Linked DNA regions of Homo sapiens: region 2 is reported to be linked to region 1. Evidence: microRNA targets listed by miRTarBase, many of them from high-throughput screens and not tested one by one. Region 1 holds a microRNA gene; the other region holds the end of a gene's coding sequence.

Region 1 (4,000 bases):
GTCTGCAGCTGTTTATCAATAAAGAATGTTTATAAGACCAGTCCTTTGTCCAACTGGAGTTGTAGTAGGTCTGCAAGGCGTTTGGGGGTGGGGGCGCATACTGAGGGAGGGAATGTTTCCATTGGCTGGCATCAGGCAGTCTATCGGGGTCAGTTGGAAATTTTCCAGCTGAAGTTGTGTTGGCTATGCTTTTTCGAAGCTGGTTTCTGCTTACTTAATAGCAGTTAATAATGCAAAAATACGTAACTAACCCCTCATCCTTCTGGCTGTGACATTCTGGAGGTTTTGTTTTGTTTTGTTGTTTGTTTTTTGTTTGTTTCTGTCACCAGGCTGGAGTGCAGTGGCTTGATCTCAGCTCATTGCAACCTCCACCTCCCACATTCATCTCCTGCCTCAGCCTCCCGAGTAGGACATTCTGTTTTTGGTGCATCTCATTTTAGGAAACAGGAGTTCATTTTGTCCGTCTGTTGGAGTATATTTTAACAAGTCAAATAACATCACTTTTTGATTTGATTAATTTTGATTTAAAGACATGAGGTACTGGGCTACAAACTTCATAGAGACCCCCAGATGATCTCATGATAAATGATACCAGATGATATGTTTTGATTTACATAACTTTACAGATAACTTAAAATGACAAATAAAGACACGTCTTTATTATGTAGAATGATGGAAATGATTACCATAATAACTGTAGTGGGTTGAATATTGTTCACCAAAATTCATGTTCAGCCAAACCTCAGCATGTAACCTTATTTGGAAATAGAGTCTTTACAGATGTAATCAGTTGAGGGGGTCTTGTGATTAAATCATCCTGGATTTAGGGTGGGCCCTAAGTCCAATGACTGGTTGTCCTTATAAGAAGACAAGACAGGGAGACACAGAGAAGAACACCCTGTGAAGATGGAAGCAGAAATTGGAGTGGTGCTGCCACAAGCCAAGGAATAGCAGGAGTCCCCATAAGCTGGAAGACTCAAAAAATTCTCCCTAAGAGCCTTCAGAGGAAACATGGACTTTCAGACAACTTGGTTTCATACTTCTGACCTCCAGAAATGTGAGAAGATAAAGTTCTATTGTTCTAAGCCCCTAAGTTCGTGGTAGTCTGTTATGACATCCCTAGGAACCTAGGAACCTAATATAGAGAAATAAAGGCTATGCTTTTTATGTGGCATGATGGAGATGGCCCCAGAATAGTGAAAGGCCATGGCTCTTCTCCTTCCATTGTGTACACAGAAAAGAACACCCCTTCGAAAGCAAAAGCAAAGGCCAGGCACGGTGGCTTATGCCTGAAATCCCAACATTTTGGGAGGCCGAGGCGGGCAGATCACTTGAGGTCAGGAGTTCAAGGCCAGCCTAGCCAACATCGCAAAACCCCATCTCTACTAAAAATACAAAAAGAATTAGCCGGGTGTTGTGACTCACACCTGTAATCCCAGCTACTCAGGAGGCTGATGCAGGAGAATCACCTGAACCCAGGAAGCGGAGGTTGTGGTGAGCTGGGATGGCGCCACTGCATTCCAGCCTGAGCGATAGAGTGATACGTCTCAAAAAAAAAAAAAAAAAAAAGCAAAAGCGAAAGCAAAGAAAGATTCAAGGGCAGATTTGCAGTGACTTATCATGTCTACAGACTGGGAAAAGCTGGTAGAAAAGAGGAGGAAACCATTCTCAGGAAACTCTACCTTTCAATTCCTCCAGTCATGAGCTCCAGGGTTGGATGCTCCCGCAATGGCAAAACTCCGCTCTCGTTACTGTCATGGGGCCACCACCACCCACCAAGCATCAGCCCATCTTTCCATAATGTCAAGTCTAGAGTGACATTTGTCTAATGTTTGCCTACCTGGAGATGTTGCCCCGCCCACCACCACCAGCAAAAACAACCGGCACCCATCTTATACGGATAATTCCCTACCTAAGGAGTTCTAGAAATGCATGGCCCACCAAAACTCAGGGTGGGTCATGCATTTCTAGAGGAAGAAATGGTGATATGGAGAGAAAGCTTGTCCTAACCCACTTCTACCAAAGTAGGATTAAAGTCAATTTGAAAAAAAACACCCGTTTCTCCTTTTATATAAAAACCAAATGCAGAAACTATAGAGAAATGTAATAAGCTTGACTCTACACAAATACCAAAATACACTGTAAACAAAATTAAAGGTAACTGACAAATTGAGGAAATATTTGCAACGTATATCACAAGCCAAGTTTTCAAGCATCAAAAGTCCTTACAAAACCCATTTTTACAAAGATGAATGTCAAGTTTTAAAATGGACAAAAGACAGGAAAATGCAAATCACACAATAAGGACAAATGGCACTCAAGATATGGGAAAAAGTCTATTCTTCCTACTAAAAAGGAAGTGAATACAATTAAAGATGCCAATTTTTGACAATAAAATGGGCAAAAAAATTTTAAGAAAAAAGAGAATTTCCAATGCGGGCCAAGTATCGGGACACTTACTGGAAGGCAGTTTCCCTCTACCTTTAGAAAGCCTCAAAGTGAGCATATGCTTTGGCCCTGCAACCTCGCTTGTAGGAATTTATCCTAAGGAAACAGTCAGGGGTGACCTCAAAGATTCATCTGCAAGGATATTCAACATGGCTTTGATGCAGGAAAAAAAGTAAATAAATAAAAGGAAACAATGTAAGTCTTCCTAAATTATGCCAAATTCCTATGCTGTCATTAAAAAACATCTATAACTCCATCATCTAGGTGATTTTGACTTTTGCTTTGGACTTGCCTGTACATTTCTAAATTCTCTATGCCAAACATGCATTGTTTTGTCATCAGATTTTGTTTTACAAAAAAAAAAAAAAAATCGTCTTTATGACAAGGGGTTAATAGGGGAACTGTGCTTCCCAGGAATTGACCAGGCGTCTACACCCACCTACTGACTCAAGTTACCTAAGACTGACAGAGCCTTAAGAGGTCAGGAGAGCGCCAGAGCGCGTGACAGGCTCCCTCGTCTCGGTGCGGCCACGCGGGAAGGCAGGGTCCCGGGCGCCGAACAGGGACGGCAGGAGGATCGTTTACAGACGTCTACACAAGAAACTCACTTCCCGTCACCGAAGACAAACGCGAGGCCACACTGACCTCCAGGCCCAAGACGCCCCTCCCCGCCGCGGCTCCTGCTGCCCGAGTGCGCATGCGCGCGCCCAGCCCCCGCAGGCCGGCGCTTCCCAGGAGGCCCCGCGCGCGGGTTTCCATGGGGACGCGCCGGCGCTGCGGCGTTGGCGCAGTCGTGGGAACAGCGCGGAGCAGGTAACGGCCCCGCTGCTGCCGTCGTCCCCCTCAGCCGGTTACCCTGTTACAGCCCCAGCTCTGGGCCCTTCCGGACCCTCCTGCTACGCTCTTTCTGGGCTTCCAGTATCGCCGGTCACTCAGTCCTCGCCCCTGCCTGCCTCGCTGGCGCCCCGCCGTTTCCTCCTCGCGGCACAGTTTGCCAAGGAACAGCTACCCCGGCTCGGCAGTGACCGGGCGCCCCGGCGACACACGTACTCTCAGGCCCGCTGGGCAGGGGGACGGCCTGGGCCGAGGTGACCTAGCGCTCCCGGGGCCGCGCCTGGGTCTGGCGAGGGGGCGGAGGCCGATCTCACCGCCGCCCCACCGAGGGAACTTTGGGGTTTTTCTATCTGAATCTTCTATCTGACCTCCGATTTTGCCTCTGCTTACTTGCTGTTTTGCTTTGGATTAGTTTTTCTTTCTAACCTTAGCGCTGGCATCTCCCTATCTCGTAGGAATCTAAATCTTTTGAAATGTCTTCTCTGTCTGTGTTTGTCCCCCACTCACCCAGCCTCGGGGCTCTTTATCCACACCCTCCCCTCAGCGTGTTAACGTTTCGTTGCCACACTTAAGCCAACGGTTAACTTTTTTCAGAGACCAGTTTTCACGGCTGAATGTGAGCTTGAGCCTTTTTTCTGTCTACACTCAATCCCTAGATGAACTCATCCAGTCGCCTGTACTCAGAGCCTATCTGAATTCCAGTGAGCCCCAAGTGTGC
Region 2 (4,000 bases), not on the chromosome of region 1:
GTAACAGGACACAATTGGAGAAACTGGTTATTTTACCAAGGCTGTGACTGGAATGACATGCTTTCCTTTAAAGAATCAAACTTGCCCTAAAGAGCCAATAAAAGATTTTTGGGAAAACTGGCCTTATACCTTGTCTACACAGTCCCTGCACAGGGTTCCTGACCTGTGGTAAATAAAGAATGACACTTTATGACAGGCCCAGGGCCCCAAGTTATCTTGGGACCTCAAGGGGAGAAGAATTCACCCAACTCATAGGTATTTGATGGTATAAAACATGGCTGGGCAGTTTGAGGCAGGAGAATCACTTGAACCCAGTTGGCAGAGGTTGCAGTGAGCTGAGATTGCACCATTGCACTCCAGCCTGGGTGACAGAGCGAGACTCCATCGCAAAAAAAAAAAAACCCAAAAACAAAAAATAAAGGCTGATCTGAGATGCCTTCTATGGAACAAAGTTCCATCAAAGCCAATTTAAAAAGCCTATGTGAAAAATAATTATTCTTGCTGCACTTTATACAAATAATCTGGCTAAGTGCAACAAAGCAAATCGGTCCTACCATGATGTGTCTTTAGTAAAAATGGGAAACTGGAGAGAGAAAAATTATGTTTCAAAAACTATGGTACATCTGTTGTTGGATTCTAGTCTTGCCTAATATTTTTCAATTTTTATTATTTTCTACAGTTTGGGCTGAATTCTAATGTTTCTTGGGTACAAGTTTTCAAAATAATGTTTTCATTTTTTTCCCTTCTTTTTCCCCCCATTTTTCCTCATTTGGAGTCACTGAAAACTAAGTTGTGCTTTTGTAAAGCCCTGTGACCTGATGCTAGATAACTTAAACTTCAAAAGGAAATAACAGCAGCCTATTTACATACATAAGCCACTTTCAAACCTGCCTACTGATATACGGGCTTCAGAGTAATGTGACCTATATCGATTTACCAGGATTGTTCTTTTATATCTTGTAGTTTTTCTCTCTCCCCCTGTTTTCTCTGCATAGGACATGAGACTTCTCAACTTGCTAAAAATAAGCTTTCCTAATAACTTGGGACCTAACTGTCTAGGAATGAACCATTTTAGCCATGAGAGGCCAGATGAAACCTGAGACCAGAGACTCATTTTCTTCTAAAATGCTTTCTCCGAAGATTTTAAAAAAGATAAGGGGGGAAATGTGAAAGGAAAGTAAATCTTGAAAATCTTGGGCCCCCCAAAATCACTAACCTAAAGGGAAAAGTCAAGCTGGGAACTGCTTAGGGCAAACCTGCTTCCCATTCTATTCAAAGTCATCCCTCTGCTCACTGAGGAAAATGCATATCTGATTGCCTTCTTTGGAAAGGTTAATCAGAAACTGAAAAGAATGCAACTGTTTTTCTCTCACCTACCTGTGGCCTGGAAGCTCCCTCCCTTCTTGAGTTGTCCCTCCTTTCTGGACGGAACCAATGTACATCTTACATATATTGATTGATGTCTCATGTCTCCCTAAAATATATAAAACCAAGCTGTGCACCTTGGGAACATGTTATCAGGACCTTCTGAGGCTGTGTCACAGATGTACATCCTCAACCTTGGCAAAATAAACTTTCTAAATTAACTGAGACCTGTCTCAGATTTTTGAGGTTCATAAACTTCTCTGCAGAGTAATGTAAGACCTTCTCCTCATTAAGGGTGGGGTGACATTTTGCATATTACACTATATTTCTTTTCAGGAAGAATGTAATTATTTCTGGGGGCATCAAAGGGTTTGCATCCTACTCTCTAAGTCAAGCATTCACGTTTAGGTGTTGTTGCATTCAGAAGAATGAGAAAAGATCACTCTATAGCATGGCTGTTGAAATGGGGGCTAAGGAGAAGGAAGCTCTCTAAGATACCTGGTGGTGGGGTCAGAATTATTAACTCTAAAGATAATTATGGTTAGCAGGAATATTTAGTAGTTTTTCCTCCTTTCATTATAACTTTTTTCTCTACATCAAGCCTTTAGTTATGTCTTACTAAATGTTATAGTCCAGCAGGGGAGTTTAAAAGAAATAGGATCAGGCCTATGTCCCCAGGCCTATGAACAACTTGGGGAGTATAGCCACTTGGGAGATCCTGTTACTGTATGGACTGGTGGACTGCAGAAGAGGGAGGCAACTGTTTGGAGCAGGGTCAGCAGCAGACACAGCTTTCAGAAAGAGGGACATGTTCTGGACCATGTGAGCGTTGCCCAGATTCATAGAAATATAGGCCAGAAGAACCCTGATAGAGCATAGACTTCTTGATGACAAGAAGAATTGGGTTTGGAGTCCAGAATATCTAAGTTACATTACAAAGAGATACAAAGATGTGGATAAATAAATATATTTTTTATTCAATATTCAATTTAATCTATATTAGCCTATGTTTCACTTTATAGGCAATGCGTAGTTCTTAAATTCCAAGCTCTAGAATGCTGCTTGAGACTGTTCTGGCTGTTGTGCATCTGAGAATGAGCTTCTGGGATGGCATTCCTTGACACTGAAAACTTGAGAACACATATTACCATGAGGAAGCCCTCTAATCAGGCAGGAATGATGGTGGTCAAGGAAGACTTCCTGGTGAAGGTGACTCTTGAAATCAGTTGTGAATGACAAATCAGAATAGCAGGAGAGAGAATGTTAGATGGAAATAAGGCAATCTCAACAGAGAGAACAGCATGTATATAGCACAGGTTGAGAAGTAAAGGGAACAAAGAGGGTAATGAATGGAAAAAATAAGCCAGGGGAGATGGGATCTAAGAAACAGGTGGAGATAAGGCTGTATTCACAGGAGACAAAAATGGCTTAAAGGAAGAGATTCACCTGTAAATGGGAACAAGAGAATGGAGAGAGTTCAAGTTTATGATTACTTTATTTTTTGAACTCTTCTCTCTCCTGGAGCAATGAGCTGGGAGAAGGGCAAGGGGTACAAGGAGTGTGTGTGTGTGTGTGTGTGTGTGTGTGTGTGTGTGTGTGTGTTGGGGAGAGTGTTATGTGGTGGATGGGGAACAATATATTTACCTTCCACATAAGTTTTTATTGATACCAAGATGAGGTAAATAGAACTCTGGTGTGGATCTGTGGGTTTGAGTCCAATAAGCTTTCTCTTTTACATTCATCTTATTTAAATCTTTGCTGTCACAGTGAAGAAATAATTTAGAAAACTTATAAAAGCAATTGAGTTTAACACAGATTTTATTGCCCTATAGACAGTTATGATGTGACCAGTGGATATCAATGAAACTTCTTAATTATTTGAGTCTGAAAATGCATATTTAAAACATTAAAAGATTGACTCCACTTTGTGCCAAGCTCTGCGGGTAGGCATATTTCATATCTTAAAAAGGCTTGTAATTCATTCAGGGAGGCAAAAGCAAAATCTGTAATTAGAGGTTAGCCATAATGTTATGAAAGTGCCATGAGAATAGAGAGAGAGAATAAAATCATAAAGATATAAATAAACGTATTTGAACTACAGGTGATGTATTGTCTTAAATTACTTCTATATCATATGCCAGAGGGCCTTCAATGGAAAATCCTAGGTAGAAAGACACTCTTTCTATGTTCCTACCACTTCTGAGTGGACCTGAATAAACAGATATTACTGGTATTTTTATTTTTTCCTCTGTTCCATATTCTACAGAGATTAGCTTGCCTTCAGCCTGACCAGTTAGACGACGCAGGAGGTCTTTGACTTCATTTTTTTTCCACACATCCCCACTGTGCCAGAGGGAATTTGTATTTTGTGCTTTATCAAAGTACTGCTCTATTTTGGCCTTGTGAACAATACTGTTTAGACCCTTCCTTTTGCCCAGATAGAAAAGTGTGCTTGCCTGCTTGGACCTGCACATGCGCTTGTACTGTCCCCTGAAGGATCTATTTAAGGATGAAACATACTTTTCTATTAGTTTGGAATCTTGATCTAGCTCTTGATTTTCTGGCCAGAACAGGAGGCAGGCCAAGAAATAAGGACCTGGATATTGATGACTTAGTCCTACAAATTGCAAGACCT

What was found. Region 1 holds the annotated microRNA hsa-miR-6508-5p (UCUAGAAAUGCAUGACCCACC, at 1,952-1,972, opposite strand). A microRNA usually pairs through its seed, bases 2 to 8, with sites in the 3' UTR of a target mRNA and lowers its output. Matches are read on the target gene's strand: a 7mer-m8 pairs with bases 2 to 8, a 7mer-A1 pairs with bases 2 to 7 and ends in A, and an 8mer does both.
Region 2: the mRNA of SAMD9L is a reported target of hsa-miR-6508-5p. Seed matches in the 3' UTR shown: 7mer-A1 at 2,415-2,421.

The regions. Positions count from the first base shown.
Region 1 is chr21:39,444,986-39,448,985 of GRCh38, reverse strand. MIR6508 (microRNA 6508) reads right to left here and starts at 1,976; the gene lies at 1,917-1,976. The region is part of intron 8 of GET1-SH3BGR (GET1-SH3BGR readthrough); the gene reads right to left. LCA5L (lebercilin LCA5 like) reads left to right here and starts at 3,208. Exons shown (of 11, transcript NM_152505.4): 1 at 3,208-3,261. It also overlaps a transcript of SH3BGR not described here. RefSeq lists a silencer at 3,038-3,297.
Region 2 is chr7:93,127,738-93,131,737 of GRCh38, forward strand. SAMD9L (sterile alpha motif domain containing 9 like) reads right to left here. Exons shown (of 5, transcript NM_152703.5): 5 at 2,319-4,000. The coding sequence ends at 3,480. Among named protein-coding and RNA genes, the nearest start is that of SAMD9, 12 kb to the left of the region's middle.